7 linked regions of the Homo sapiens genome follow. The protein of the gene in region 1 purifies or fractionates together with the protein of each later gene. This does not show direct contact. Each region holds a gene or a part of one and is shown in the gene's direction. Other genes may lie near its edges. The genes, in order: ZAR1L, FAM83D, GLCCI1, MIGA1, CUEDC1, MEX3D and SECISBP2L.

Evidence for each region.
Region 2: the proteins of ZAR1L (region 1) and FAM83D purify together in Homo sapiens (co-immunoprecipitation; 2 studies listed by BioGRID and IntAct, with this or other methods). This does not show direct contact.
Region 3: the proteins of ZAR1L (region 1) and GLCCI1 purify together in Homo sapiens (affinity purification with mass spectrometry; one large-scale study listed by BioGRID and IntAct). This does not show direct contact.
Region 4: the proteins of ZAR1L (region 1) and MIGA1 purify together in Homo sapiens (affinity purification with mass spectrometry; one large-scale study listed by BioGRID and IntAct). This does not show direct contact.
Region 5: the proteins of ZAR1L (region 1) and CUEDC1 purify together in Homo sapiens (co-immunoprecipitation; one large-scale study listed by IntAct). This does not show direct contact.
Region 6: the proteins of ZAR1L (region 1) and MEX3D purify together in Homo sapiens (co-immunoprecipitation; one large-scale study listed by IntAct). This does not show direct contact.
Region 7: the proteins of ZAR1L (region 1) and SECISBP2L purify together in Homo sapiens (co-immunoprecipitation; 2 studies listed by BioGRID and IntAct, with this or other methods). This does not show direct contact.

The regions. Positions count from the first base shown.
Region 1 is NC_000013.11:32,311,867-32,316,517, reverse strand, and holds the start of ZAR1L (protein ZAR1-like), read left to right. Parts: upstream 1-1,154; 5' UTR 1,155-1,203; intron 1,204-1,372; exon of another isoform or gene 1,373-1,441; intron 1,442-1,967; 5' UTR 1,968-2,188; intron 2,189-4,424; 5' UTR 4,425-4,592; coding exon 4,593-4,651. Other genes in the region: BRCA2 (breast cancer type 2 susceptibility protein), read right to left, coding at 1-57. UniProt on the Homo sapiens protein: mRNA-binding protein required for maternal mRNA storage, translation and degradation during oocyte maturation.
Region 2 is NC_000020.11:38,939,602-38,943,798, forward strand, and holds part of FAM83D (protein FAM83D), read left to right. Parts: intron 1-2,357; coding exon 2,358-2,525; intron 2,526-4,197.
Region 3 is NC_000007.14:8,086,386-8,089,975, forward strand, and holds the end of GLCCI1 (glucocorticoid-induced transcript 1 protein), read left to right. Parts: coding exon 1-153; 3' UTR 154-2,695; downstream 2,696-3,590.
Region 4 is NC_000001.11:77,862,914-77,867,110, forward strand, and holds part of MIGA1 (mitoguardin 1), read left to right. Parts: intron 1-980; coding exon 981-1,115; intron 1,116-3,424; coding exon 3,425-3,478; intron 3,479-4,197. UniProt on the Homo sapiens protein: Regulator of mitochondrial fusion: acts by forming homo- and heterodimers at the mitochondrial outer membrane and facilitating the formation of PLD6/MitoPLD dimers. May act by regulating phospholipid metabolism via PLD6/MitoPLD.
Region 5 is NC_000017.11:57,864,576-57,868,772, reverse strand, and holds part of CUEDC1 (CUE domain-containing protein 1), read left to right. Parts: intron 1-529; coding exon 530-623; intron 624-1,080; exon of another isoform or gene 1,081-1,150; intron 1,151-1,357; coding exon 1,358-1,416; exon of another isoform or gene 1,417-1,435; intron 1,436-2,228; coding exon 2,229-2,296; 3' UTR 2,297-2,299; intron 2,300-4,197.
Region 6 is NC_000019.10:1,561,425-1,565,621, reverse strand, and holds part of MEX3D (RNA-binding protein MEX3D), read left to right. Parts: intron 1-4,197.
Region 7 is NC_000015.10:48,991,293-48,995,143, reverse strand, and holds part of SECISBP2L (selenocysteine insertion sequence-binding protein 2-like), read left to right. Parts: intron 1-2,217; coding exon 2,218-2,900; 3' UTR 2,901-3,851. UniProt on the Homo sapiens protein: Binds SECIS (Sec insertion sequence) elements present on selenocysteine (Sec) protein mRNAs, but does not promote Sec incorporation into selenoproteins in vitro.

The DNA.
Region 1 (4,651 bases):
GCAGCGTGTCTTAAAAATTTCAAAAAATGTTGGCCTCTCTTTGGATCCAATAGGCATTTTTACCTACGATATTCCTCCAATGCTTGGTAAATAAGTCTGCAAAACAGAAGACCAAAATGCACTTACACAGGGATGCATTCCTTATTATGTGACTGAGGTAAAACTCAGAAGCGCTGGAAAATTTGTTTGAATTCTAATTCAGTCCCATCTCCTGGAACGGTAACAGCTTACTGTGAGGATGGGAACATTTTACAGCTGTGCTGTCCAAACCGGTGCCACTAGCCACATTAAGCACTCGAAACGTGGCTAGTGCGACTAGAGAAGAGGATTTTCATACGATTTAGTTTCAATCACGCTAACCAGTGACGCGTGGCTAGTGGGGACAGAGGGCTCCAGTTAGAGACCAACGCCGCCTGGTAATTCCCATCAGCATGTCTTCGGAATACAGCAATTACCAGGGGCTTAAGTAAGGCAAATACAGCGTGCCCAGCAGCTGTAAAACACTTCCCCAAAACAGCAATATTCCGTTAAAGTGATCGTGTTTCCAAGAAATTTCAGATGGCGTCATCTGGGACAGCTGGGAGGGAAGTTAAGTCTTGAGCTGAAGGCGGAGCCCAAAGGCCGGGCCGGAGGCGGGAAATGGAGACCCAGGGAAGGGGCGGGGCTCGAATTTGCTTGGCGAAAATCTGCCTTCGGGCAAGGACCTTTCTCTCAGGCATGGGTGGGGGTTGGCAGAGACAAAAGGGCAAGAAGCCGCGGCAGCGACCCGGGGCGTGAGGCGCTCCCCCGCCACGCTGGACTGGGACTGCGGAAGACGCGCTCGTCCCAACCCACTACCACCACCACTAACCCGCTCCAGAGGTGCAGTTCTTTTTTGGCCGGAGTAAGCTGACAAAAACCGCGCCGGTCACAAATCTGTCCCCTCACGCTTCTCCCGGCGGCGACCCACCGCCGCAAAAGACACCCGAGGCGCAGCAGAGGCGCAGCAGTGCCACAGCGGCTCCGCCTCTGCCGCCTAGTTTCAGAAGCTCGCGCCACAAGCCCGCGCTGGCCACGTGACGCCGTGACGCGACACGCAGCACACGCACCACCCGGAAGTCAGGCCTGGGTGGGCCGCTGCGGGTATTTCTCAGTGTGGCGAAAGGAAATTCCTTGTCAGGCATCCCAACCGTCAGTATCTGACCGAATAAAGCGGGAGCTGGAGTGTGTGTTCTCTTCTCGCTGACCCTTAAGAGTCCCAGGCCACCCTGCTTGGAGGGGCCGCCCCTATGCCTACTCCAAGTCCCCCATCCCTTTCTTTTTGCTCCAGCTCATGTTTGGGTGGGCGCCCTCGGGACACGACCTGGGACCTATGAAATACCTTTGTTCTGACCTTAAAAGGGATGTTCTCTCAAGACCTGTTCCCCAAAGCGAGCCGATCTTACAAAAGCTTAGAGTGGTCGGTGTGTGGTTGTGGATGACTTCACTTAGTGGTAGTGGGCGGGGCTGTTATTTGAAATCAGAGGATTTTAGTTCCAGTAGCTGTTCTGCTATTGGGTAGCAGGTGTTCAAGACCTCCGAGCCCGTTTCCTTGCTTGAAAAATTGTGAAACCCATCTTAACTCGCTCATGAAGTGTGAGGTACCTTGCTCCGCAGGGCTTGGTAGTATCTTTTGCTTTTTTTTTTGAGACGGAGTTTCGCTCTTGTGGCCCGGGCTGGTGTGCAATGGCGCAATCTCCGCTCACCGCAACTTCCGCCTCCAGGGATCAAGTGGTTCTCCTGCCTCAGCCTCCCGAGTAGCTGGGAATACAGGCATGGGCCACCACGCACGGCTAACTTTGCATTTTTAAGTAGAGACGGGGTTTCTCCGTTGTTGGTCAGTCTGGTCTCAACCTCCCGACCTCAGGTGATCTGCCTGCCTCGGCCTCCCAAAGCGCTGGGATTACAGGCATGAGCCACCACACCCGGCCCATCTTTTGCATTCTTAGGATTCGGATCACCTGTCTTCCTCGCAGGCTGAACTGGAAGACCTGACTTCATCTCCGAATTCGTTGGTTCTGTAACATGCCTAATACAAGGCTGAATAGGGTTTGTTGTAAGACCTACAAAACCTTCAAATGGATTCAGTGAGAGTTGCTCCCATGGGGGCCTTGCTGCTTCCAGAAGGTGCTTGAGCAGTAAACAGAAGCAACCTTGGATTAGGAAAAGGGTGGGCTCCGCTTGGTTCCTTAGGGACCATTTTAGTTTGATAATCAGTAATCCTTAGTTGTAGAAGGAGGCCTTACTAATGCAGATAGATTCTAAAGCTTTTGCTCTAAGTCTAATTCGCAAAGAAATACGTCTGTGATCCTTACTAATAACAGCTGCCACTTACCAAACATTTTATGAGTTAGGCATTCTGCTTTGGGTTTTCAAGCAATACCATGTTTAATCTTACAGTAATCCTGTAAATTGGTCAGTATTGTCAGATGAGGATACTGAATCAAGTAGTTAAGTAATGTGCCTGGTAGTAAGGCCCAGGTTTGAATTCTAGTCCATTTGACTTCATACACTTAACTAACCTGTGATTTATTTACCCTATAAATCAGAACAATATGCTTTGTCCCCTTTTTGTGGGGGAGGGGTGTCTCACTAGGAGTGGACTAATGAGAACCCGTGGCATGTCACACAAGTCTCAGAAATAACATTTTCTGTCATTTTATACAGCCCCCCATACCTTTATGTTTCTTGTTCTCTTTGTACCAGGGACTTGCAACTTATTAGCTCCACCATAATAGACTTTCTCACCTATTCTCTTCTAGTGCAGCTGCTCAATTTACTATTTGTATTCAATTTACAATATGCTTTAATTTTTCTTAAAAACATTATTTCCAGCTGGGCATGGTGGCTCACGCCTGTAATCACAGCACTTTGGGAGGCCAAGGTGGGCAGATCACCTGAGGTCAGGAGTTCGAGACCAGCCTGGCCAACATGGCAAAACCCTGTCTCTACTAAAAATACAAAAATTAACTGGGTGTGGTGGCATGTGCCTGTAATCCCAGCTACTTGGGAGGCTGAGGTGGGAGAATCACTTGAACCCCAGAGGCGGAAGTTGCAGTGAGCCGAAATCATGCCACTGCACTCCTGCCTGGGAGACAGAGCAAGGAAACTCCATTTCAAACAAGCAAACAAACAAAAACCCAAAAAACCATTATTTCCTAAAAGTTGTATATATTTAATGTGCACAACATGTATATGTACACAGTGAGATGATTACTATAGTCAAGCAATTAACATATCCATCTGTTCACATAATTACCTTTCTTTTGTGTGCGGTGAGAGCACCTGAAATTTCTCTTTGAAACTTTTCAGTATAAAATACAGTATTGTTAACTGTAGTCGTTATGCTGTAAATTAGATCTCTAGACTCATTCATTCTACCTAACTGTAACATTTTAGGCTCTGACCAGTCTCTCTCCATTCCCCCCAACTTCCTGTCCCTGGTAACCACCATTCTACTTTCTGCTTCTATGTATTTGACTTTTTCAGATTCCACATATCAGTGAGTTTATGCAGTATTTTTCTATCTGGCTTATTTCACTTAGCATAATGTTCCCCAGTTTCACCCATGTTGTTGCAAATGGCAGGATCTCCTGTTTTTTGTTTGTTTGTTTGTTTGAGACGGAGTCTTTCTCTCTCTGTTGCCCAGACTGGAGTGCAGTAGTGTGATCTCAGCTCACTGCAACCTTTGCCTCCCGGGTTCAGGTGATTCTCCAGCCTCAGCCTCCCGAGTAGCTGGGATTACAGGAGCGTGCCACCATACCCGGCTGATTTTTGTATTTTTATTAGAGGCAGGGTTTCATCATGTTGGCCAGGTTGGTCTCGAACTCCTGACCTTAGGTCATCTGCCTGCCTCGGCCTCCCAAACTGCTGGGATTACAGGTGTGAGCCACCGCGCCTGGCCAGGATCTCCTGTTTTAAGGCTGAATAATATTCCATTGTATAAATACATGCCACAATTTCTCTATCCATTTTTCTGTTAACAGACACTTAGATTGTTTCCATAACTTGGCTATTGTGCATAATGCTACAACGAACAAGGAAGTGAAGGTATCTCTTCAGGATATTGATTTCATTTCCTTTGGGTAAATACGCAGTGGTGGGATTACTGGATTATCTGGTACTTCTATTAACTTTTTTAAGGAACCTTCATACTGTTGTCCATAATGGCTGTACCTTAAAACATTATCTAACATTACCACATTACCTTACAAAGGATCTTTAGAATGGTCACTACAGGAATATATGAATTAATCACTAATTAAAGCATATGTGTGAATAAGCTGGAAATGAAAAACAGCTTTGAAAAAAAGATTCCCGAACAGTGAAGAGGTAGGGAAAAGCAATTAGGTAGGAATCAGGTGGCAATTAGACATCTGTAGATAGAGCTTCTCTCCCTCAATCAGGGTAATAAGCAGCAGCTCCCATTAGAATCTGAAATAAATGGAGAAGCCAGGAATGAATCTGAACCAACCTGATGAAGAGAAAGAAGGGGCGGATGAAGGAGGAAGGCAAAATAAGGACCCAAACAAACTGGCTAGGATATTAGACTGCGCCTGAGCACCTGAGAGCGGATGGAGCGCTTTGTCCGTGTTCCCTATGGCTTGTACCAGGGTTATGGGAGCACAGTGCC
Region 2 (4,197 bases), on another chromosome or scaffold:
CGGCCTCCCAAAGCACTGGGATTACAGGCATGAGCCATCATGCCCGGCCCCCTTAGTTTAATTGCTTAGGCTGTATATATCATTTTGCCTCTCTGCATCCTGTGTCCTCTCCTTGAGGTAAGTTGGGTCTATGTCAAATTCCTCATAGCCATCTTTCTGCCTAGTGCAGTGTGCAGCCCACAGCGTGCTCTGAGGAGGTGCTGGCTGCATAATAGCACCTGTTTCCTGCCTTGCCCTCCCTGTGCTAAGCCCTTTCCATGCTTTGTTTCACTTAATCCTCACAGCAGCCCTTTGACCCAGATGCTATTAATTTTGTCTTCCTGAGGAGGAAACTGAGGCTCAGAGAGATTAAGCCACTTGCCCAGGGTCACACAGCTGGTAGGTGGTAGAGCTGGGTTCTATGCCCAGAACTTTTGCCTTTAATTCCTGTTGTATGACCCGAATGAGTGGGATGAATAGAACTGTCAAAATAGGATGTGTAAAGCCAGTGGAGGATGTAAACTTCAGAGGATGCCACAAATTCAGAAAGAACGCTTCTCATTTTTTAAATCACTGTGTTCAGTGGGTTTCAGCCATGCCCTTTACCAAGAATAGCCCACAGCTTAGACCATCATTAAAAGGGGTGGGGTGGGAAAGGCAGCAGGAGAGTAACTGGTCTTCTCAACCCCCTCACAGCAATGACTTCCCAGGAACTGGTGTTTCAGGGTCTCACATCCTAGTAGACCAGGCCCTGGAGTGTTGGAGAAAGACAGCCAAATTGCCTTTTTGCCTCTTCATTCCTTCTTTAATCCCCCAAATCCTTAAGGAGTCATGACTGTCATATACTGTCCTAAGTCCTCTGGGACCACAGAAATGACTCAATCCCATTCAAGAGCCTTTGCTGCAGGAGAAGGAGTGAAACCCATAAATGAATAATCCTAACTTTCAGAAAAAGAGTTAATGTGATTCTGAGAGACAGGCTTTTACTGTGGAAATGGGGAGGAAGGAGAAACCCTTATATCTCCAGACTACAGAAGAGCCCCCAAGCCTCGGCTTCCTTAGTTAACACCCCCAACTTCTGACTCAGTTTGTCAGGACCTGTTTCTAAGCCTGGAGGTTTGGACACCCCCACTGCCCTGCCAGGAGTTTGCTGAGGACCTTGGTTTTAAGCCTGCAAAAGGTGTGATTAGAGGCATTGTGGCAGGAGCAGCCTGTCTTTAAAAGAGCGAGGAAAGCTAGGCGGTGTCTCCCTGTGTTGAACTGTCTGGACGGCTCCAGCTCTGGACTGGTAAAGTGAATAAACGAGCAGATACTAAGGGATCCTTTGTACCTTGCACTTTATGTAACATAGTCATTTAGTTCTCGATACAACCCTATTTTGCAGCTAAGGAAACAGACATTTGAAACAGCTGTAATTTGCCCAGGAATGCATGGCTAAAAGGTAGCTCTTAATTGTAGTCTGATGCTAGGTGTGGAAAATCACTTGGGAGGCATGAATGGAGCCATGTTGTTGGGGAGAAGAAAGGCCTGTTCTGAGCTTAAGGGCAGAATCCTTAGGAAATATTTCCCTGTTCTTTGCTGTGGGCTTGCACTATGGACGGATACCAAAGAACTGCAGAGAGAACCTTTTACTGAGGAGAGGCCAGTGCAGTGGAAGTCATTTGGTTAGAACCTGCCCAACAGACAGCTGATCAGGCCTGGCTGGTAGAAAGAACAGAATGTTAACAAATATGGTATGCAGTGTTAGGGAGGCAGAAGAAGGGAGAATCCATGGGCCTGCTTCGATTGCTTTCGAGTCATGAGTTGGTGGTGAATGGGACAGGCCTTAAAAAAGTCAGAGATTATGATTCAAAACCAGACAATAATTTAAAAAATAGATTTCGAGAATGCTACCCTCCAGAAGGGCCCTCAGAGAGAATCTGAGGTTTTATTTACTTGTTTAACGGACAGCAAACTGAAGCCTGGTGGGGAAAGCAACAAGCCAAAGATGACAGTGTGTTACCCACAGAACCAGACAGCTTGCTGATCTGAATAAGCCTGTAAGACAGGAGTTTAGTGGAGGAATAGAAGGTGAATGGAGCAGGTTCATAAGAGAGCAAGGCAGTGGATTGATCTGTATTTTTGAGAAACCTCCCAGCATGGAGTTGGGAGTGTTAGCTAGGCCAAGTCAAGATTTCTAGGACACGGGGCCCAAGTGTCTTTGGAGATGCAAAAGAGTCCATGGTGAGGGGGGCACCAACACTGCAGAAGGGGGAGGGAAGGATAACTGTTGGATAGGGATCATTTCCCAGTTCTGAGTGGAGTCCAGAGTCCAGAGAGCGTGCTGTAAGGTGGTGTCCTATAAGCTTATCATGTGCTCTTCCCTGTTTCACCTGTAGGTGATTGCAGTGGTCATGGACGTGTTCACAGACATCGACATCTTCAGAGACCTGCAAGAAATATGCAGGAAACAGGGAGTTGCTGTGTATATCCTTCTGGACCAGGCTCTCCTCTCTCAATTTCTGGATATGTGCATGGATCTGAAAGTTCATCCTGAACAGGAAAAGGTTTGTGGTACACTATATCCAGTTTCACCATAGTCAACAAATATGACCAAGCATCCATTATCTACAAGCTGGCTGGTGGCGGTATCCCTGTTTACAAGGAAGGGACTGAGGCTGTGAGCAAAGTCATTTGCCTGGTCTTACAGAAAACAAACAGTACCTGTGACCTGGCAATTCTCCTAGGTGTCTACCCAAGAGAAATGAAAATATGGGCCCCCACAAAAATTTATGTGTGAGTTTTATAGAAGCATTATTCATAAAGCCAAAGAGTGGAAACAATCCAATGCCAATCAACTGATAAGTGGATAAATGATATGTTGTCTATTCATACAATAGCATACTATTCACCTATAAAAAGGAATGAAGTGCTGATACATGCTACAGCATGGATGAACCTGCAAACGTGCTAAGTGAAGGAAACCGGTCACAAAAGACCACATATGATATGATTCCATTAAGTCAGAATAGGGAAATCTATAGAGACATTGATTAGTGGTTGCCTAGGGCTGGGGAGTTGGGGGAAGGACGGGATTATTGCTAAAGGGTACTTTATTTTAGCACTTTCTTTTTAAACTGATGAGAATGTCCTAAAATTGACTAACGGTGATGATGGTTGCATATATCTGTGGATATACTAAAAACTACAGAATTTGTGTTAATTGTATGATCTGTGAATTAGATCTCAGTTAAGCTCTTTAAAAGAAATGTTAGGATTCAAGACCTTGGCCTCTCCCCTGTACTGTCCTGCCTCTTAATAGAGCCTGGACCAGCTCCCTTGTTGAAGGCCTGAAGGCCACCCTGGAAGTTGCTGCTTTTGACAGTAGCTCCAGGAGGCTGCCCTTTTAATCACAGCAACCAGTATTTTTTGAGCCCCCACTCTGTCTTTGGCACTGCTCCATGCTTTTTTTTTTTTTTTCCTGAGATAGAGTCTCACTCTGTTGCCCAGGCTGGAGTACAGTGGCCCAATCTAGGCTCACTGCAACATCCCTCTCCCAGGTTCAAGAGATTATCCTGCCTCAGCCTCCCAGTTAGCTGGGATTACAGGTGCGTACCACCACACCTGGCTAATTTTTGTATTTTTAGTACAGATGGGGTTTTGCCATGTTGTCCAGGCTGGTCTTGAACTCCTACCTCAGATGATCTGCCTGCCTCGGCCTCCCAAAGTGCTGGGATTACAGGCATGAGGCCCCATGCCCAGCCTGCTCTGTGCTTTTAACAAATGTTATGTAACTGAATCCTCAAAGCAGCCCCTATCAGGTAAGTGGCACCTGTGTTTTAGACCAGGAAATAGTGACACAGAGAATCCAAGTGTCCACCACTTCAAAGTAGTGGGCCTAGGGTCTGCCTCCTTGTATGTCTGCCTCCAACCCCAGTGTCTGTAATCACTATTACATGCTGCTGCTGTTCATTTCTCATTATTGTAAAATTAGATTTTATGTCTATTTCTCTGATTCTGAAAATGACCTAAGTGTTTCAGTGGAAGCCTATACAACATAGCTAGCTTGGTCACTTTCATGGAAAGAAGAAAGAAAAATTGTCATATTTATTACAGAATTTGTTTTTTTGTTGTTGTTGTGTTTTTTTGAGATGGAATTTTGCTCTTGTTGCCCAGGCTGGAGTGCAGTGGCACGATCTCAGCTCACTGCAACTTCTGCCTCCCGGGTTCAAGCGATTC
Region 3 (3,590 bases), on another chromosome or scaffold:
TCATCCCGGGTTTCCTTTACGTCTCTTTCTGATGACACCAGCACAGCGGGCTCCATGGAGGCCTCTGTCCAGCAGCCATCCCAGCAGCAGCAGCTCCTGCAGGAACTGCAGGGTGAGGACCACATCTCTGCTCAGAACTATGTGATCATCTAAAAAAGGGGGAGCTGGCCTCCACCCTATGTTCCATGGATTCGGAACAAGATTTCAGACATCTGCATGAGTGACAAACTTTCTGAACACCACCACCACCAATAATACTTATCAGCATCATAAAGTATCTCTTAAACACTGATCTTGGCAGGGACGGAACTCCTATTCAGCAGTTTTTGTGGAAAGCAGTAATGCTTGCAAAACGTGTGTGTCATTCAGCATTTTAAGTGGAGACTATGCATTTCATAGTATATTTGACAGATTAGTACTGTGTCCTGTGTTTTGTTCCAGATTCTTCAGTATAAATAAGCTCTATATCAAAAAGTTGCCTGTCTAAATAGAAAATGTCTTGCTGTGTTTTGTCCTATGGAAAATACTGTAATTCAGGATTATGTTTACAATTGATCCAGGTGTTTGTTTCTAACTTCTGTAATACATACAATGCAAAAAAAAAAAAAAAAAAATGGCCACAACAGTTGCACAGTGCCCACCCTATGGCCTAGCTTCAGGTACTTCAGTTGAAGTCTAAACTCAGGTAACTTGGAATGTATATCATATTGGGATATTAAATATTTCACAGCTAAAAAGCTAAAGAGGGAACATCACTCTTTTGCCTTTCCTTATTTTATGCATTTCCCTTTCCTCATTACATTCCACATTCTTAGAATAAGAAGTGCATTCAATCCTAGGAGAATGATAATCCTGGACATGGGTGAACATGAGGAGAACCAGCAAAATCTGTGGTGTTTGACATCACTTTGTCATGTGGTTACAAGTAAAACAACTGTTGCATTCACTGTTTCAACATGTGTACATGTGGCTTTTTTAAAAGTTCAGGTGTTGCTCAGTAAAGGACTGTGACAATGTTGCAAATAAAGTGTTCAGTACTGGACTGTACATAAACATTCCACATTGTGTGTGATGAAATTTAAAGACAAGAATGTCTAGAGTTAATTTCAAAATAAGTGAAGTGTTTGACGGAATGGTTGAGATTTTTTTGTTTATGTTAGCCATCAGGGTCATAACTGTTACCATTTTATCTAAAGACATATTTATATTTAGTTTCTCCCTTGGAAATTCTTTATTTTGCAGGTGAAAAAGTGACATACTTTTTGTTATTGTCTTCCTCAAGCAGTTTAGGTGCATGATCTTCATTTACATAGAATACTTGGGTCTCAGAATTGATGCAACATAAGCAGGTTTTTTTGGTGACTTACAAGAGCAATAGTTTGAAGCTATCTCATTTAAGCCTCTCATAATGCATAATCATGAGTAGTTTTGAAATTTGCAACCTGTGAGGTAGAGCATAAACTCAAGAAAATAGCCTTGAACTTGCAGACTTTTGACACAAGTTCTCCACAAAGTGTGAAGAGAGCCCCAGGCATTCCTGATTGGTCAATGGGAGAGCCTAACTTTCATTGTTTTCTTCAGTACAAAGAGTATCCAAAAGCTAAGTTTTTGTATTCCACTACTTTCAGTTCAATAAAACCTAGAGTTGTTTCATCTGCGCCTAAAGTGTATGGCACAATTTTCTTAAGAATTAGGGGAACCAGGTGCCTACAGTTAAAGGAACGTTTCAGTTCCTTTCATTCATTCCTGGGTTTTTCTTTTATTTTCTAAGAAGGTTGAAGAAGGATGAGTGATAGAGAAGAAAGCAACACCATTGATTTTTTTTTTTAAGAAATGATATATATATGTATATGTTTGTGTGTGTGTGTGTGTGTGTGTGTGTGTGTATTCTGTGCATTATTTTGTCATGATCTCAATTCTCTTCTTTCCACCAAAGTTTGTCGTAATATTTTCTCCTGAAGGTGCATTCTGGCTCCTTTAAATTAGTCAGTGTTATATTGTAGGAGACTGTCATGGAAAAAAGGACTCAGTTTACTTTCGTCATTTTCACAGGGGAACCTTTTAAAACAATCTTTTCAGCAGCAGATACCTTTAACCCTAATAATCTCAGGCCTTGATGAAAATACTATATTTTGTAGATTATGGTTAAAGGGGGAAAATTACTAGTTCCGTAAGATAAATATGAGCTCCATTTGACTTCTGATGTCTGGTTTAGCATTACATAATATGTTGATCTTACACTCTGCTTTTGTCCAAATAAAATGCAATAGTATCAATATCAATTTCAGAAAAATGGACTGAATATGCTTTTTTGGTGATGAAATCTCATGTACGATATTTATAGTGATGTGCTTTTATTTTCTCATGAGATACTAAATATTAATTGTGTTGTACATTTGTTCTTAGCATATATTAAAGTTTTGAACCAAATGTGTTAAAGCTTACGCTTTGCCATGTAAATTTCCCAGAAGTTGTTGAGCTCAAATGTATCCTACATCCAGCTGTAGAAATTTGTCAGAAATTGTTTAAATTTTGTATATAATTGTACTGTTTAATTCTAGCCATTGCGCTGAACAGTATTTGAGTTACCATATAATATGGCTTTACACAAGGAAATGTGTGGCTTTTGTTTTGTATTTTTTCAGTATAGAAGTTCCTGTGTCTTATTTAAATAAAGTTATTAGTAAAACTGAAATAGTTCACACATGTTTTTGGAAAGACTGGGGTTGTTGGCTCGTTACCCGACAGAGAGAAATTCAGCTCAGGTTAATGGTAGTTTTCTGTACTCATTGAGTTCCTGGCCTGCATGTCTGGAGGTGTGGGGTGTCTAACTGGATCAGATTTCTACAACCTGGCTTCCTCTTGGCATTTAACTTACACACTCTCCATCACAAGGTGAGAAGCTAGAGGTCTTAAGTTCCAAGTCTTGGTACTGTTCCCAGGTATGATCACATTAAATAGAGAAAACATTGTTCTCACATCACTTTATACCTCAGAATTTATAGAAATGAGTTTAAATTCAATGAAATCATTTCAGAGGAAGTTGCATATTTCTTGCAAGCAAAGCTGCAGCAATAAAATTTAATTTTTTACTTTTTTATTTGTTTAGATTCAGAATAAGGTGGAGAAAAGCTTTACAAAACAAAGGAGGGTTGACATCATGCCCAGTTATCCAGACATGGATATGGTCTGGTAGGCCATATGGTAGCGTGAAAGCAAGAACAAAACGCTCTGAGAAATAATTTATCAGCAGACTGTTGTTCACTTCCAAAGCGCATCTCAAAGGGATAAGATTTGATCTTTAAATTGAACTTAGAAGTGACCAGTAGCTGTGGTTTTGGCTGAGAAAAATAAAACGTAACTTTTTAAATGGTGGGATGTATCAGCTGTGTTAATGTTATTTAGGCAGGAAATTTTCTACTTTATACAACTTTAAATTTCCATTGCAAGTGAATTCATGTGAAGGAAAGTGGAATTCCTAGCCCCATCTCTTCTTGACTCGATCATATAATAAGTAATATAAACAGCCCTGAGAAGTTAATACAGTATTTGCAAAATCAGACCTCAGGAACAAGGAGGGGAATATTAGT
Region 4 (4,197 bases), on another chromosome or scaffold:
CTGGGTGACAGAGCAAGACTCTGTCTCAGAAGCAAAAAAAAAAAAAAAGAGTGAGTTTACAAGCAGCTGAAAGGCCTTCTAGGCAGAGAAAACAGTGGATACAACAAATACATGAAGACTTAATTTTTCCTTTTCTAGTGTTCCCTTATTCAGGAAATGAAATCAGTATCCATTTACTTCTGCAGGCCAGCAACCTGAGACTCATCCTTCACCTCTCCCTGATGCTCACCCATTTTATCATATTCATCTCTAATTTTGTCAGTTTTAACTCCTAAATATCTTTCAGTTTCTTCGACTTTTCTCTCTTTCTGTCACCCCTCTTGGCCTAAGTGCCTGTTGTCTTTTCTCTGGGCTACATCAGTAGTCTTTATATTTCCCGATTCCCTGCTCACTCCTTTCCTCCCTGCATTCATTCTTTCCCCTGTTTCATTCTCCACATTTCTGCCAAAATGATACAGCACACTATACTTTTTCCTTTATTGTGCTTCACACAGTTCATAATTGGATATTTGCAGGATTATTTTGTTGCTGTTTTCCCCACTATACTCTAGGCGTCTAATTTGCTTACTCTAGAAGTTTGAGCACTTGGTACAGCATGTAGTATGTAGAGTGTGTATGTATGAATGAATGAAAGAGCAAGATGTTCATGATCTGGTGGGGAAGACAGGCACATATACCAGTAACTAAATAACAAGGCAGAATGAGCATCCTGGATGTTATAATAGAAGCGTGAACAAAGGACTCCTAGAATAGAGAGGAGGAGAGATTATTTTCACTTGAGATCTAGGAAGGAGCAGCGATAATGTGAATTCGTAATTTCTAGTGGCGAGCTTTCATATTTATCTCTCCTTTTATTTTTTATTTTTGAATAAGCTGATTAAAAAAAACCCCTGCTGTTATAAAACCATAAAGCCCTGGCTCAGATTTTATTTCAGCTCTATGTAATAATAATTTCTGTTTCAACTCATAATTTAATGCAGGTGAAAAATCTAAATTTTTATGATGTTGTTCTGGATTTTATATTAATGGACTCCTTTGAAGATTTGGAAAACCCACCCACATCCATACAGAATGTAGTAAATAATCGATGGCTAAACTCATCCTTCAAAGAAACAGTAAGTGGTGGTTAACCTTTCTCAGCCTTTTAAGTTTGATTAAAAAGTGAGGCTGGGCGCAGTAGCTCACGCCTGTAATCCCAGCACTTTGGGAGGCCAAGGCAGGCGGATCACCTGAGGTCAGGAGTTTGAGACCAGCCTGGCCAACATGGTGAAACCCCATCTCTACTAAAAATACAAAAAAAAAAAAAATTAGCTGGGCATGGTAGCGGGCACCTGTAATCCCAGCTACTCGGGAGGCTGAGGCAGGAGAATTGCTTGAACCTGGGAGGTGCAGTGAGCTGAGATTGAGCCATTGCATTCCAGCCTGGGCAACAAAAGCAAAACTCCGTCTCATAAACAAACAAACAAACAAAAAAGTGGTTGGCCAGGCGCGGTTGCTCACACCTGTAATCTCAGCACTTTGGGAGGCTGAGGCAAGTGGATCATTTGAGGTCAGGAGTTCGAGACCAGCCTGGCCAACATGGTGAAAGGCTGTCTCTTTTAAAAATACAAAAATTAGCTGGGTATGGTGGTGGGCACCTGTAATCCCAGCTACTCGGGAGGCTGAGGTGTAATAATCGCTTGAACCCAGGAGGCAGAGGTTGCAGTAAGCCGAGATCGTGCCGCTGCACTCCAGCCTGGACAACAAGAGTGCAACTCTATCTCAAAAAAATGTCAAAACTGGGTAGATTGTTAAGATTTACATATACATCTGTCTGTGAAATAATGTATGGAAACTGAGCTCATCCTTTGATATTCAGCTCAGGCATATACGGCATAACATCTTCAGATGAAATTCTCTTTTCAGCTTCTGTTCTTTTCTGTTCTCAAACCTGTTTGACATTGGTTTTTGTTGGGCTTTAAGTGTGCACCTGGAAGCAAAGTAGGGTGGATATATTTTATGATGCAGTTTGGATACCTTTAAAAAAATGTTCCAGTTGGCAATTTCACAATTATTTTGGAACTTACTGATATTAAACTTAAAAGCATTTTAAATAAATTCATTTTGCCTCAATTAAGTATGTTTTAATAATAAAAGGTACATGTTCTCCATTTCTGTAACTGATTTGGTAAAGTGACCTTGATCAAAGCTGGGTCATGCCAGAGTGGGGTCAGATTTTTCTTTCTTTTTTTTTTTTTTCCTTCCTGGAATCACCTCCAAGGGTCAGATTTCTTCAGGATCCACTGGGTGCTTTTGTCCTGTCATGGTTGTATTTCCTAGTTCTTTATTTGGATCAAACTGTTAGCTCTATTCACAAATATTCCAATAGTACTATTCTTGAAAAAAAATTACTTTAGGCCAGGTACAGTGACTCATGCCTGTAATCCCAGCACTTTGGAAGGCCGAAGCAGGCCGATTACTTGAGCTCAGGAGTTTGAGACCAGCCTGGGCAACATAGTGACACCTCGTCTCTATAAAAAAAATACAAAAATTTGCCAGGTGCAGTGGTGTGTGCCTGTGGTTTCAGTTACTCAGGAGGCTGAGGTGGGAGGTTCACTTGAGCCTTGGAGGCGGAGGTTGCAGTGAACCGAGATCACTCCTTTGCACTTCAGCCTAGGCAATGGGAGTGAAACCCTGTCTCAAAAAAAAAGAAGAAGAAAAATTACTTTATTATTACACATAGAATATTTATTTGTGTATGTGAATTCTATATACACATATTTTCACTTTTTTCCCTTAAGGAACAGAACTTTAAAACTCTGAAAATTGAATCTCCTTTGTTCCAGAGTGCAGTCTTTTTCCTTTAGTGGCTTTGTGTTTAATTTTTTAAATATTATTTTACTTTTTTTTTTTTGCCCTTGCAACATACAACTTTGCTCATGATTTAAAAATTTATAAAAATGAAATACCTTTTCATTAATATTTTCAAACAATGTGAGGACCCTGACTAGTTTTGTTTTTTGTTTGTTTGTTTGTTTTGAGACAAAGTCTTGCTCTGTCGCTAGGCTGGAGTGCAGTGGCGCGATCTCTGTTTACTATAACCTCCGCCTCCCGGGTTCAAGCAATTCTCCTGCCTCAGCCTCCCGAGTATCTGGGTCTACAGGCATGCGCCACCATGCCCAGCTAATTTTGTTTTGCATTTTTAGTAGAGATGGGGTTTCACCGTCTTGGCCAGGATGGTCTCCATCTCTTGACCTCATGATCCACCCGCCTCGGCTTCCCAAAGTGCTGGGATTACAGATGTGAGCCACTGTGCCCGGCCGACTAGTTCTTATTAGTAATGAATGTATTGAACGTTTTAGACCCATAAACTTTGAATTTCTAATAAAAATGGAAATGTTTATATAGCTATATATAAATCTTTCTTTTCTCTGCATGTATTTAGGCTGTGGCTTCAAGTTGTTGGTCGGTGCTGAAACAGAAAAGACAACAGATGAAGGTAAAATTCGTTATGTCCTGAATTCCTTTGTTAAATCATTTAAGGATTCTGTCAAAGCAGCTTCTGAGTCACTTCTCCGGTGGGAATTGGCAGCTGTAGGAGGGGTAGGAGGGACTGTCCCTCAGGCTAGATGAGTGACTTACTGGTAGTGGGTTGGCTTCTTTTTTGAAGGCCTTCTTTCTCATCCTTAGTATTGAGGCATGCATGGTATTTCAGCTAACTGGGAGAGGGGTTTCGAGTTGGAAACAGCTCTGATAAGTTTTAGGTTTTTGTTTTTTCTCTTAATGATATTAATTTTTTTTTTTTTTTTTTGAGACAGTCTGTCTCTGTTGTCCAGGCTGGAGTGTGGTGGCGCGATCCTGGCTCACTGCAATCTTTGCTTCCCGGGTTCAAGCGATTCTTCTGCCTCAGCTTCCCAAGTAGCTGGGACCGTAGGTGCCACCACACCCGGCTAATTTTTTTATTTTTAGTAGAGATGGGGTTTCACCATGTTGGCCAGGCTGGTCTCAAACTCCTGACCTCAGGTTATCCGCCCGCCTTGGCCTCCCAAAGTGCTGGGATTACAGGTGTAAGCCACTGCACCTGGCCAGTATTTTTTTACAGTTCTTTAATATAGTGGATTCCCTTCGTTTAATCCAATTAAGAAATAAAGATTTGATTCTAATAGCTGCTTTATTCAGTTTGGAGCCCCTACAAATAAAAAGTCTCAGAGTTTATAT
Region 5 (4,197 bases), on another chromosome or scaffold:
GGACCTCTTTCCACAAAGTCCTACCAGCCTTGAATGCCCCCTTCCCTCCCCCTCACCTCCCCGCCACACAGACCCACAGCCATGTGTGAATGAGGCTGCGATCCTTTCAGGCTCCATTTCAAGGAAAATCTCGGATTAGTCATGGAAATCCCAGAACCAACTTTGGAGGTGGCTAGGGGAGGGGCGGGAAGGCGGTGGCGGCGGGAAAGCGAGCCAAGATGCGTTGCAGTGTGTTGCAGCTGGGGAGGGAATACTTGGATCTTGAGCCGCCTGCGGTCCCTGGGCCTGGCTCAGGGTGTCCTGTGCTGCCCCTGCAGGCTGACCCAGGATGTAGCCTCTTGCTCCTGGGGTGGCGTCCTCAGGGGTCTGCGATTCCTGTCATCTCTCCCTCCTCAGCTCCCACCCTTGCCTGCCCCCTGCTCCCTCTCCGGGGGGCCTTGGTCCTCCCCTGGCCTTTCCCACACCTGGGAGGAGGCCATCTGGTGTGCTGGCTGCTGAGAGAATGACTCACAGGTCTCTCTGCCCCCAGCCACCCGGAGGAAACTGTTTGAACTTGCCCGAGCCTTCTCAGAGAAGACCAAAATGAGGAAGTCAAAGAGGAAACACTTGTTGAAGCATCAGTCGTATCCTTTCCAGCCTGGCACTGGTGGGGGTGGTGGAAGCCAAGGGCCATGGAGCAAGACCCCTGTTGGACTCCCTGCAGCTGTGCCCTCCCCTGGGAGTGGAACCCGGCTCTGTGGCCTTCCCTTCCTCCTCCCCTCTCCTCCATGAGCTTGGCCACCAGTCCACTGCCCGTCTCTCGTTGCCAACCAGGGACCAGGCCTAGGGAGCAGGGCAGCAGCTCCTGTCTCCCTTCTGTAGGCCCAGAAGTTGTCCTATTAACTTTTTTTTTGGTCTGAGGTTATGTACTTCTTGGGAGAAAAAGTGGTTCTTCCATCAATATCAAACCTTCCCTTCATTTCTCTAGTTGAACTGGTGCACGAGTCCTCCTCACTCCAAGCATGTTGGCCCTCCCTTCCTCGAGTAGAAATACGGCTTTCCACCTTTTTATCAGAACTCCTATTCATGCTTCTCAAACAGGGCCTAGGATAGCAGAGGCTCAGCAGCCAGAGGGAAACAGGGAGGAAGCTGTTTCTCCATCCCCAGAGATGTAAGCTGGGCGAGAGTGTCAGGGCCTGGCCATACCACTGACCTCAGGAAAATGAGCCTGGGGGACAGTACTAAGGGTGTGGGGGGTCAGGTGGGTGTGTCAGGTACCTCCAGAGCTTTGAGGGGTGGGGCAGAGAGTCAGTGGGACTGGGAGGACTAGGGCAGTGTCCCCTCATCCCTGGGACGGTTTTCCTGAATGGCCTGGCAGGCTGGGGGCTGCCGCGTCAACAGCCAACCTCCTGGATGATGTGGAGGGCCACGCGTGTGGTGAGGCTGGAGGGGAGTCGTAAGCTCCAACTTCTCTATGATCGGTGATCTCCCAGCGGAGTTCCTGGGTGTTTCATGGGAGCACCCGCCCTGTCCCCTGGAGGAACACACTGAGGGTTGGTGGGCAGGTGACCCAAAGATATGGATCCCCCTGACTTGGTCGACATTGCTTCCCCCTTTCTGCAACCCCTGAAAAGGGGCCCTAGCCCTACTTCCACCTAGATGTGTACCTGTAGCATGAAGTGCCAGGTACTGTTTCTGGGGAATATTCTTTTGGGTGTGAGGTGGCAGACAGGCCTGCCCCCATGGGGGACCCTCGGCCTGAGAACCAAGCACTGGGCAGCTTCAGTCTGTGGGCCCAGAGGCTTCTCAACTTTCACCCAGTCCCTTCCAAAGGCCACGTGGGCCAGAAGACTCTGCCTCAGACCCTCCTGGGCCCGCAGCTGAACCCTGATCCTCATGCCACATTCGAGGGTCAGGAGGCATCCAGAAACAAGGACTGGAAGGGCCTCAGAGGTCATCTAGATAGTCCAGCTTTTCCATCCCATTTTATAGATGAGGAAATTTGAGGCCCAAAGACGAGGGGAGAACTTGTCCAAGGTCTCAGAGCTCAGTGGTGGACCCTGGCCAGCACCTGAGTGTCCTGCTGCCTCTCTCCCTGGACCCATGCATCGTCTACCTGGGGGGATCTGCATGGGTCCCAAATGAAGGGGGCAGAGAGAGTCGGGTCAGCTCTCTTGCCCAGTCTAGGGGCCGTGCCTGAGCGAGGCCCTGCAGGGTAGAGGATGAGGCAGCTTCCCTCTCCTTTTCAGATGAAGACTTCCGGGGCAGGCGTCAGGAGGCACCCAAGGTGGAGGAAGGCCTGCGAGAAGGACAGTAAGAGGTAAGGCCTGGAGCCATAGCAACCCAGGGACTGCCCAAGGCCAGGGCCCCCCACACTATGCACCCCACATGTCCTCCCAGGTGTCCAGAGGCGCTGGGCTCAGGCAACTGGGTAGCACAGGCCCCACGTGTCTTCCCTCATAGTTGCGGCAGGGACACGGGCGTGGGAACTAGTTCATTGCATGTCTTTTTTGGTTATTTATTCATTTGACAAAAGATGAGCACACCTGCCTATGACAGATGCTGAGAACAGGAAAACAAAATCAGCTTTGACCTTGAAGAGTTTACAGTCCAGTTGAGAAGACAGTCCAGGACACACGTAGCACACTGAGAGGATGATTTAAGAAAAACTGGCTGGGCACGGTGTCCCATGCCTGTAATCCCAGCACTTTGGGAGGCCAAGGTGGGTGGATCAGCTGAGGTCAGGAGTTCGAGACCAGCCTGGCCAACATGGTGAAACCCTGTCTCTGCTAAAAATACAAAAATTAGCCTGGCGTGGTGGCAAGCGCCTGTAATCCCAGCTACTTGGGAGGCTGAGGCAGGAGAATCACTTGAATCTGGGAGGCGGAGGTGGCAGTGAGCTGAGATCGCGCCATTGCACACCAGCCTGGGCGACAAGAGTGAAACTTCATCTCAAAAAAAAAAAAAAAAGAAAAAGAAAAACTGAGGTGGTCTCAACCCGGCTGTGCACACACACAACTCTCTCCAGCCCCCTGCTTGGGTTGGGTGGGCTGGGATCTGCCACACCAGGATGAGGAAACCCTCCTGAGGCAGCGGTTTCTGGCTGAAGCCCCAGGGCTCCAAGCCATTTCTCCTCCTCGCTTCCTGTGCACCCTCTTGGGGAGAAAAAGAAAATACCAAGGCCTCCTCCAGGAGTTGGCCAAGACAGCTGTCCCTTTTCCAGCCCCCGTTTACCATGGGAGAGGGGAAGCTGCCCGGCCTTCCCCAGCCACTTGTTTGGTCCCAGTGGGCAGCATCTACAAGGCTTTCTTGAGTTGATGGTGTGGCAGGTATGGCCCTGTGTCAGACGATGGAGAAATACTCACTTGCCTCAGGATAGTCACAATGGAGGGAAACCGGGAACAAGTAAATACAAGTGCCCTCTCCTCTCTGCCTGGGCAGCTGGCCCCCACACCCACTCCACCTGACTCCCTACCACATCTCCCACCAGGCACTGCAGCCCCTTCTATTCCCCTCAGGCTTTCCTCAAACACAAAGCCGCGGCCCACTTCCCACTGTCCTGGAATGCCCAGATAGAGCCTGCCGGGGAATCGCCTCCACTGTCACCCCACGCTGCTACTATCTCCACGCCCTTCTCCTTCCTACTGGTCCCCAGGGAGAACGGGTCCTGTCCAAACCACCCCTACATCAGAAACTTGCTCATCATTCATTCATTCATTCATTCATTCATTCATTTTGAGACAGAGTCTCGCTCTGTTGCCCAGGCTGGAGTGCAGTGGCACAATCTTGGCTCATTGCAACCTTCACCTCTCAGGTTCAAGCGATTCTCCTGCCTCAGCCTCCCGAGTAGCTGGGATTATAGGCACCCACTATCTTGCCTGGCTAATTTGTTTTTGTATTTTTAGTAGAGATGGATTTTTGCCATGTGGCCAGGCTGGTTTCGAACATCTGACCCCAGGTGACCTGCCCGCCTGGACCTCCCAAAGTGCTAGGATTACAGGTGTGAGCCACCGTACCTGCACCTCATCATTTATTTCTGTCCTAGGACTTCCAGCTTGTCCCCTTCCAGCTCCTTCTGCAAGTTGACATCCTCCTCCTCCTCCCCTTAAACACCAAGGGTCCTTGAGTCTTCCCTGCCATCCTCCTTCATCCACTGCAGGCTGACAGCCCCTCCCATCACTCGGATTGACTCGGAGGTCACCCAGCAGCTCAGGGCCT
Region 6 (4,197 bases), on another chromosome or scaffold:
TCTCTGTGATGTGCGGACGTCTCACCTCCATTAGGGTAGAGGATTCTGGGGCAAGATGCTGGTTTTATTTATTTATTTATGAGACGGAGTTTCGCTCTGTCGCCCAGGCTGGAGTGCAGTGACGTGATCTGGGCTCACTGCAAACTCCGCCTTCTGGTTTCAAGCAGTTCTCCTGCCTCAGCCTCCTGAGTAGCTGGGATTACAAGTGTGAGCCACCACGCTCAGCTGATTTTTGTATTTTTAGTAGAGACGGGGTTTCACCATGTTGTCCAGGCTGGTCTCGAACTCCCGACCTCAAGTGATCCGCCCACCTCCACCTCCCAAAGTGCTGAGATTACAGGCGTGAGCCACTGCGCACGGCCAGTTTTATTTATTTGTTTTTATTATAAAGTTTTTCTTGTAGAGACAGGGTCTTGCTCTGTTGCTCAGGCTGGTCTTGAACTCCTGGCCTCAAGCGATCCTCAGCCACCCAAAGTGCTGGGGTTCCTACAGGTGTGAGCCACTATGCCTGGACCCAAGTTGCTGGTTTTAATCCCAGCTCCAGGTCACACACAGTGGCCACCCCATAAGTGGAGTGCGCGTTGCCAGGGATGCAACTGTGGATGCCAGGACAGGTTGGCAGCTTCAGTAGTCCTTACGTCTTCCACAGCTTCGGTAGTCTGTACTTCTTCCACACTGTAGAACCATCTGTGGCTCCCAGCTTCTCCCACCCACCCCGTTCTCAAGCATACCTTTCAATGTCCTTTGTGCCCCGGCCCTGCCCCTTTACTCACCTTCCTCTCCACCCTGGGGCTCTCTGAACTTCTCATGCTTCTCTGTCAAACCCAAGCTCCAAGGTTACCCCTTCCCTGGAGGCCAGGAAGGGTGCACCTGTCCGGCCTCCCCACCTAGACAAGAGTCACACAGGCCTGGCACCAGCCCTCTCCCCAGTAGCTACGTGCTGTTCTCTGAGCTTCAGTTCTCTTGATCCTAGAGGGGGTCCGAGTGCTTTCTGGGCAGACTGTGGTCATTCAAACCCTCTGAGTTCCCACCCATCTGCTGGAGGCTCCAGTTCATTCATTTGCTATATCTTTTTTTTTTTTTTTTTTTGGGATGGAGTCTCGCTCTGTTGCCCAGGCTGGAGTGCAATGGCACGATCCCGGTTCACTGCAAGCTCCACCTCCCAGGTTCAAGCGATCCTCCTGCCTCAGCCCCCCTAGTATGTGGGATTACAGGCACGTGCCACTATGCCCAGCTGGTTTTTGTATTTTCAGTAGAGACGGGGTTTCGCCATGTTGGCCAGGCTGGTCTCACACTCCTGACCTCAGGTGATCCACCCACCTCAGCCTCCCAGAGTGCTGGGACTACAGGTGTGAGCCACTGCGCCTGGCCATTGGCTAGATCTTTATTGAGGGTCTACTGTGTGCTAAGCCTATGCCAGACTTGACCTGCCCCATCTCACTGAGGCCCATAATGTGCCCCAGGAAAGGTCCTGCAGCTCCCAGGTCACAGATGGGGAGGCAGAGGCTGCAAGAGGTAAAGAATAGGTAAAAACTGAGGGGATAGCAGCACTCAGAGAGGCTGAGGCAGGAGGATCCCTCGAGCCTAGGAATCGAGACCAGCCCGGCCAACATGGCGAAACCCTGTCTCTACAAAAAAAAAAATACAAAAATTAGGCATGGTGGCACACTCCTGCAGCCCCAGCTACTCTGGAGGCTGAGGCAGGAGGATTACTTGAGCCTGGGCGGTCGAGGCTGCAGTGAGCTATGATCTTGTCACCGCTCTCCAGTCTAGGCAACAAAGCAAGACCCTGTCTCCAAAACAAAACAAAAATCATGGGCTGGGATTCAAACCCAGTTTCTCTGGTGGGTCAGCAAAGAAAATTTCAGATTCCAAAGCTTGAGGGCTGGGGGTGAGGGGAGGCAGCCCTGTCTGGGAGACAGGCAAAGTGGAGACCCAAAAGCACAGGCGTCTCCCTCCAGCCGGCCAGCAAAGGTGCTCTAGGGGACCTCCGGCCCTGCTCCTGCTGAGACCCCAACATGTACCCTCCTTTCTCACCCCGCTTGCCAGGCACCCTGGGTGAATCTGTGCTCCGTGGCAGCCTCTCCCCCTGCATGTTCCCAGGGACAGGAACCAGGGCAGGTGCTTGGTCATGGTTGGGTCTTCAGTGTCTTGCCAGGGCCTGTACACAGAAGGTGTTCTGTGGCTAATGAATGAATGAATGAGTGAGTGATGTTGAAGGCAGGGCCTGGACTGGAAGCTGCTCAGGGCTCGCTCTCTCTGCTGTCGGCACAGGCTAAGGCTAGTGATTTTAGGTTGTTCCCCTCAGCTGGGGGCGACCCCTGGCTCACTGTCTCCCCTCCTGTCCCTTGTTCCTGGCTGCAGCCCCAGAGGCTCCTCTTCTCCTCCCATCCCCGCAGGCCCCAGGTTTTCCCGACAGCTGGGGACAGTGCTGGGGTGTTGGTGGGGACCATGCCATGGTTTTCCTGTCCATACACTGCAGAGCCCTAGGAAGAAAGGCTCTGCTAGGAAACCTCCACACTGCAGACCCAACTGAGAGTTCTGGCGTTAGTACAGTGTACATGTTCCCTTCATTCCCCGAGAGGTTTTTTTCTTTTCATTTTGAGACAGGGTCTTGCTCTTGTCGCCCAGGCTGGAGTACAGTGGCTCAGTCTCGGCTCACTGCAGCCTCCACCTCCCAGGTTCAAGCAGTTCTTTCACCTCAGCCTCCCGAGTAGCTGGGATTACAGGTATCTGCCACCACCACGCCAGGCTCATTTTTGTATTTTTAGTAGAGACGGGGTTTCGCCATGTTGGCCAGGCCGGTCTCGAACTCCTGACCTCAGGTCATCCGCCTGCCTCCACCTCCCAAAGTGCTGGGATTACAGGTGTGAGTCACCACGCCTAGCGGTTTCTTGTTGTTGTTGTTTTGTTTTGTTGTTTTTGAGACAGGGTCTGGTTCTGTTGCTCTGTCCTGAGTGCAGTGGTGTGATTGTAGCTCACTGCAGCCTCAACCTCCTGGGCTCAGACGATCCTCCCACCTCTGCCTCCCAAGTAGCTGGGACCACAGGTGCGCACCAACACACCCAGCTAATTTTCTTTTCTTTTCTTTTCTTTTGAGGCGGAGTCTCACTCTGTCGCCCAGGCTGGAGTGCAGTGGTGCAATCTCGGCTCACTGCAAGCTCTGCCTCCCGGGTTCAAGCGATTCTCCTGCCTCAGCCTCCCGAGTAACTGGGATTACAGGCGCCCGCCACCACGCCCGGCTAATTTTTGTATTTTTAGTGGAGATGGGGTTTCACCATGTTGGTCAGTCTGGTCTCGAACTCCTGACCTCGTGATCCACTGTGCCCGGTCCACACCTGGCTAATTTTTTTTTTTTTTTGAGACGGAGTCTCACTCTGTCGCCCAGGCTAGAGTGCAGTGGCGCGATCTCAGCTCACTGCAACCTCCATCTCCCAGGTTCACGCCATTCTTCTGCCTCAGCCTCCCAAGTAGCTGGGACTACAGGCGCCCACCACCACACCCGGCTAATTTTTTGTATTTTTAGTAGAGACGGGGTTTCACCGTGTTAGCTAGGATGGTCTTGATCTCCTGACCTCGTGATCCACCCATTTTGGCCTCCCAAAGTGCTGGGATTACAGGTGTGAGCCACCGTGCCCGGCCACACCTGGCTAATTTTTAAAAATTTTTTGTAGAGGCCGGATATGGTGGCTCACACCTGTAATCCTAGCACTTTGGGAGGCTGAGATGGGAGGATCACCTGAGCCCAAGAGTTCCAGACCAGCCTGGGCAACATAATAAGACCCTGTCTCTGCAGAAAAGCTTTAAACAATTAGCCGGGGGTGGTGGTGCATAACTGTAGTCCCAGCTACTCGGGAGGCTGAGGTGAGAGGATGGCTTGAGCCCAGGAGGTCAAGGCTGCAGTGAGCTGTGACTGCACTCCAGCCTGGGCGACAGGTGACACCCTTTATAGAGACAGGATCTTGCTATGTTGCCCAGGCTGGTCTCGAACTCCTGGCCTCAAGTGATCCTCCTGCCTTGGCCTCCCAAAGTGCCGGAACTACGTACGGGTGTGAGCCACTGTTCCTGGCCTGGGAGGGGGTTTTGACATCCCTGTTTGACAGCTGAACCAGCTTCCCTCCTCCCCACCAGACCCCTCAGCTCCCGCTGGCTTCCATAGTGGCCCAGGTCTGGGATGCTGCTGTCCCGCGTCACCCG
Region 7 (3,851 bases), on another chromosome or scaffold:
GGGCACATATAAACACAAGTAGTATAAAACGAAAGTCTCAGAGATTGAGGTGATGTTTTCAGAAAGCACCAGATTCAAAGTGTTCAAAGATTGAAGCCTTGGTTTTTCTATACTCTGCCTAAAGGTTTTAGGTGTAATCAGTTAATCTCGGGGTCTTGGATTTCTCCTTAGAAAAAAAAACTGTTGAAATGTTAATGTGCATCTAAAATTTTTAAACATTTTGTGCCTTTAAAATTTTTTTTCATAATTAAATATATGTGGGAAAATTTTCACTTACTAGACTGTTTTTTTTTTTTTTTTTCCCCAGCACTTACTATATACCAGTCATAGGGACACAGAGATGAGCTGGAGTGGAAGTGAGGAGGGATGAGGAAGGTGAAACAGCAAACACAAAACAAGGCTTTTGACTGTATATGTAAAAAGTACTGTGGGAGTTCAGGTTAGCGATTGCCTGTCAGGAGTTAGGAAAAACTTCATGAAGGAACTAACATTTAAGAGTGGTTATCAAGATGAATAGGAGTCTGAAGGGGAAAGGAGGAAAACACATCTGCAGAAAGAGTACAGCTGATGTTCCAACTTTAGGGAACAGTGAGAATTTAGATGACACTGAGCATGGAGTGTGTGGCCTATGGCGCAGGGTCAGAAGGCAGTAGGACCAGAATGATAGATAAGGGCCAGATCATGAAGGGCTTTGCTGTGCCACGCCAGGGATTTTGGATTCTATCCTAGGGTGATAAAAAGCCAGTTAGACAATGATATAATCAGTTCACAAAACCGGTTACGAAGATGTTACAAATGAACAGCAAGAAAAAGAAGGCCTGAGCTAAGGGAGTAGTAAACAGATTTAGTAGTTTTTGAGCTACAGGTGTCATGGTATAGTGATGAATTCAGTGGACTAAAGGGATATAATACTAATAAGAGAGAAAAGTAGGATCAAGTGTTACTATAAGGTGTCTTCTGCTTTGAGATTGTGTAAATGATAATGTCATTAGCTGAGAATGAGAATATAGGAGGAGGTGATTTTTTTTTTTTCATAAGGTAGAAATGACAGTGGAAAGGACTCATTCTACACTAAAGTAGCTTCAGGAAAGAAATTTTTTCCCAAACAATGTATCCTGACTTGAAGTGCCCAAAACATGTTCTATATCAATATATAGGCCATAGATGGTGACCATATTGAACATACTAATGTGAATAGGTTTGCTACAACTTGATAAGAATATTATACCTATAAACTGCAAATAGTAGCTGTAATGTCAATATGATAGAATTTTTATTTTTTAAAAAAATTTGAAAAAATACAGGGGTGAGAGATCTTTACTGATTCTTGGTACTTTTTTTGCCTTCAACTGATTTCCTATCATGAGAAATAATTTAGTTTGTCATCACTGTAGTATATAATACTTTTTTTGTCCTCCAAAATCACTTTGTAAGCCAAGCTATATATATATATATATTATAAAACAACCTTTCACAGATGTTAGAAATGCATGGATGGATTCTTTGCTTATAATTGGAAACACATGTCCCATTACAGGCCAAAAGATAATTTAAATAACTTGCTGAGTGAGCATGGTACAAACACATGAATCAGAACTATTATTGCTGGACATCTTGGCTCTTCTATCTCTTGGGTTGTGGGTCCTTGAGCCCATTACACCTCTAGGCTACCAAAAAGTTAGGCAGTTTATTGATTTTCATGAATATATGGATTTTATTTGTGAATGCCAGTGAGCTCCTATTGGTATAAGATCTCTTGCATTCTGAAGCGTTAATATACTTATTTTTACCTCCCTGTTTCTTTATCTTGAATGTACATTTTTGGGAATTATTTTCCCTTTATAACATTTAAATTAGGTTGGGCACAGTGGCTCACACCTGTAATCCCAGCATTTTGGGAGCCCAAGATAGGAGGATAGATTGAGCCCAGGAGGTCAAGGCTGCAGTGAGCCAAGATCATGTTGCTGCATTCCAGCCTAAAAGAGCAAGACCCCATCTGAAACACACACACACACACACACACACACACACACACACACACACTCTCTCTCTGTCTCAAACTAGTACTAAATAAACTAAATTTGTAGTTTTTCCAGTCAGTTTCTAAGCCAACAAATTTATATATTTTGTTGTTCTTTCTTTTTTGGGGGTTTTTAAAGAGTTGCATGATTTTGAAACAGTGTTCTGGTTTTTAAAAAATCTGCTTGATACTTGTAGAAACAAATTGGAGAAACATGGTGGAAACTTCAGATGGACTGGAAGCATCAGAAAATGAGAAAGAGGTATCCTGTAAGCACAGCACTTCTGAAAAACCCAGTAAACTTCCATTTGACACACCCCCAATTGGTAAGCAGCCATCATTAGTGGCTACAGGCAGTACTACCTCAGCTACAAGTGCTGGGAAATCCACAGCAAGTGATAAAGAGGAAGTGAAGCCAGATGACCTGGAATGGGCCTCACAGCAGAGTACAGAGACTGGCTCTTTGGATGGCAGTTGCCGAGATCTTTTGAATTCCTCCATCACCAGCACCACCAGCACTCTTGTACCTGGCATGCTTGAAGAAGAAGAAGATGAAGATGAGGAGGAGGAGGAAGATTATACTCATGAACCCATATCTGTAGAAGTGCAGCTCAATAGTAGAATTGAGTCTTGGGTCTCAGAGACCCAGAGAACTATGGAAACCCTTCAGCTTGGAAAAACCCTTAATGGTTCTGAGGAAGACAATGTAGAGCAAAGTGGAGAAGAGGAAGCAGAGGCGCCTGAGGTGCTGGAGCCAGGGATGGACAGTGAGGCATGGACTGCTGACCAGCAGGCCAGTCCTGGGCAGCAGAAGTCCAGCAACTGCAGCTCGCTCAACAAAGAGCACTCTGATTCTAATTACACAACGCAAACTACGTAACTCAGGAAATGTCGGCTCTCTATCTCCAGCTGTGGAAGGGTTGCAGCCATTACCTTTTATGCTTCATCTCAACATTTTGCACTGTCCAGTATTTAATATACGTATTTAATTCCCAACAAATATTTTTGTAGCTTTTACTTGTTATGATCTGTAGCTTAGCTTTTAATTAGTATCTAAGTGTCTTTCTAAGAACTGTGTGGAAAATTCAGATCTGTTTCAGCTTATTTTGTAATCAAAAACAGTGATAAAAAGAAGACCAGATCTTAAAGAAAATAAATTTCAAATGCTTACTTAAAAGACATTTTGAAAGTTAAAGAACAAGGTTCTAAGGATAGAAGCAGTTATCAGTGTTTGCTTCAGGACTCCACCTCCTCTACTCTAATTTGACCAAAAAATTGTTTGGGCTTCTTTAAAAAAGAACTGGGGGTGGAGTCAGAAAATTAAATGAAAGGCTGAGGGTAACTAAGTCCACCAGTGTTGTATGTTAAAAAATCAATGCAACTTTTATGTGGTCCACAAATGTTTAGTCAGAAGTCACTGATTATTGTAATTAATTAGTGTTGGGATGGGCTAAAACAGAGCCTTCAAAACTTCGGCTAGCAGTGGAGCCACCATCTTAGATTATAGCTAGCTAGCCTCATTTGTGGAAAGTGATAGATGCTGTCTATAATAGTGAACAGTCACCCATGATAGGACCTCCAGGTTCTGTCTCATATTTGCTTCTTACTTACCTCAGGAATGCTCTTGTACATAGACTTATTTACAAAAAGCTAGGCACATGTTGACAGGTGAATAACTGTAACCGATTGTATGACTGCTGCACTTACATGTAAACTCTTCAGAAACAGAGTCTTATACTGGTGTGTTCTCTTGCATGCTTCTGGTTCAGGACTCTTGATTTGAGATATGGATTTGATTGAGTATCCAAACTTGTCCTGAGTGCAAAACTGT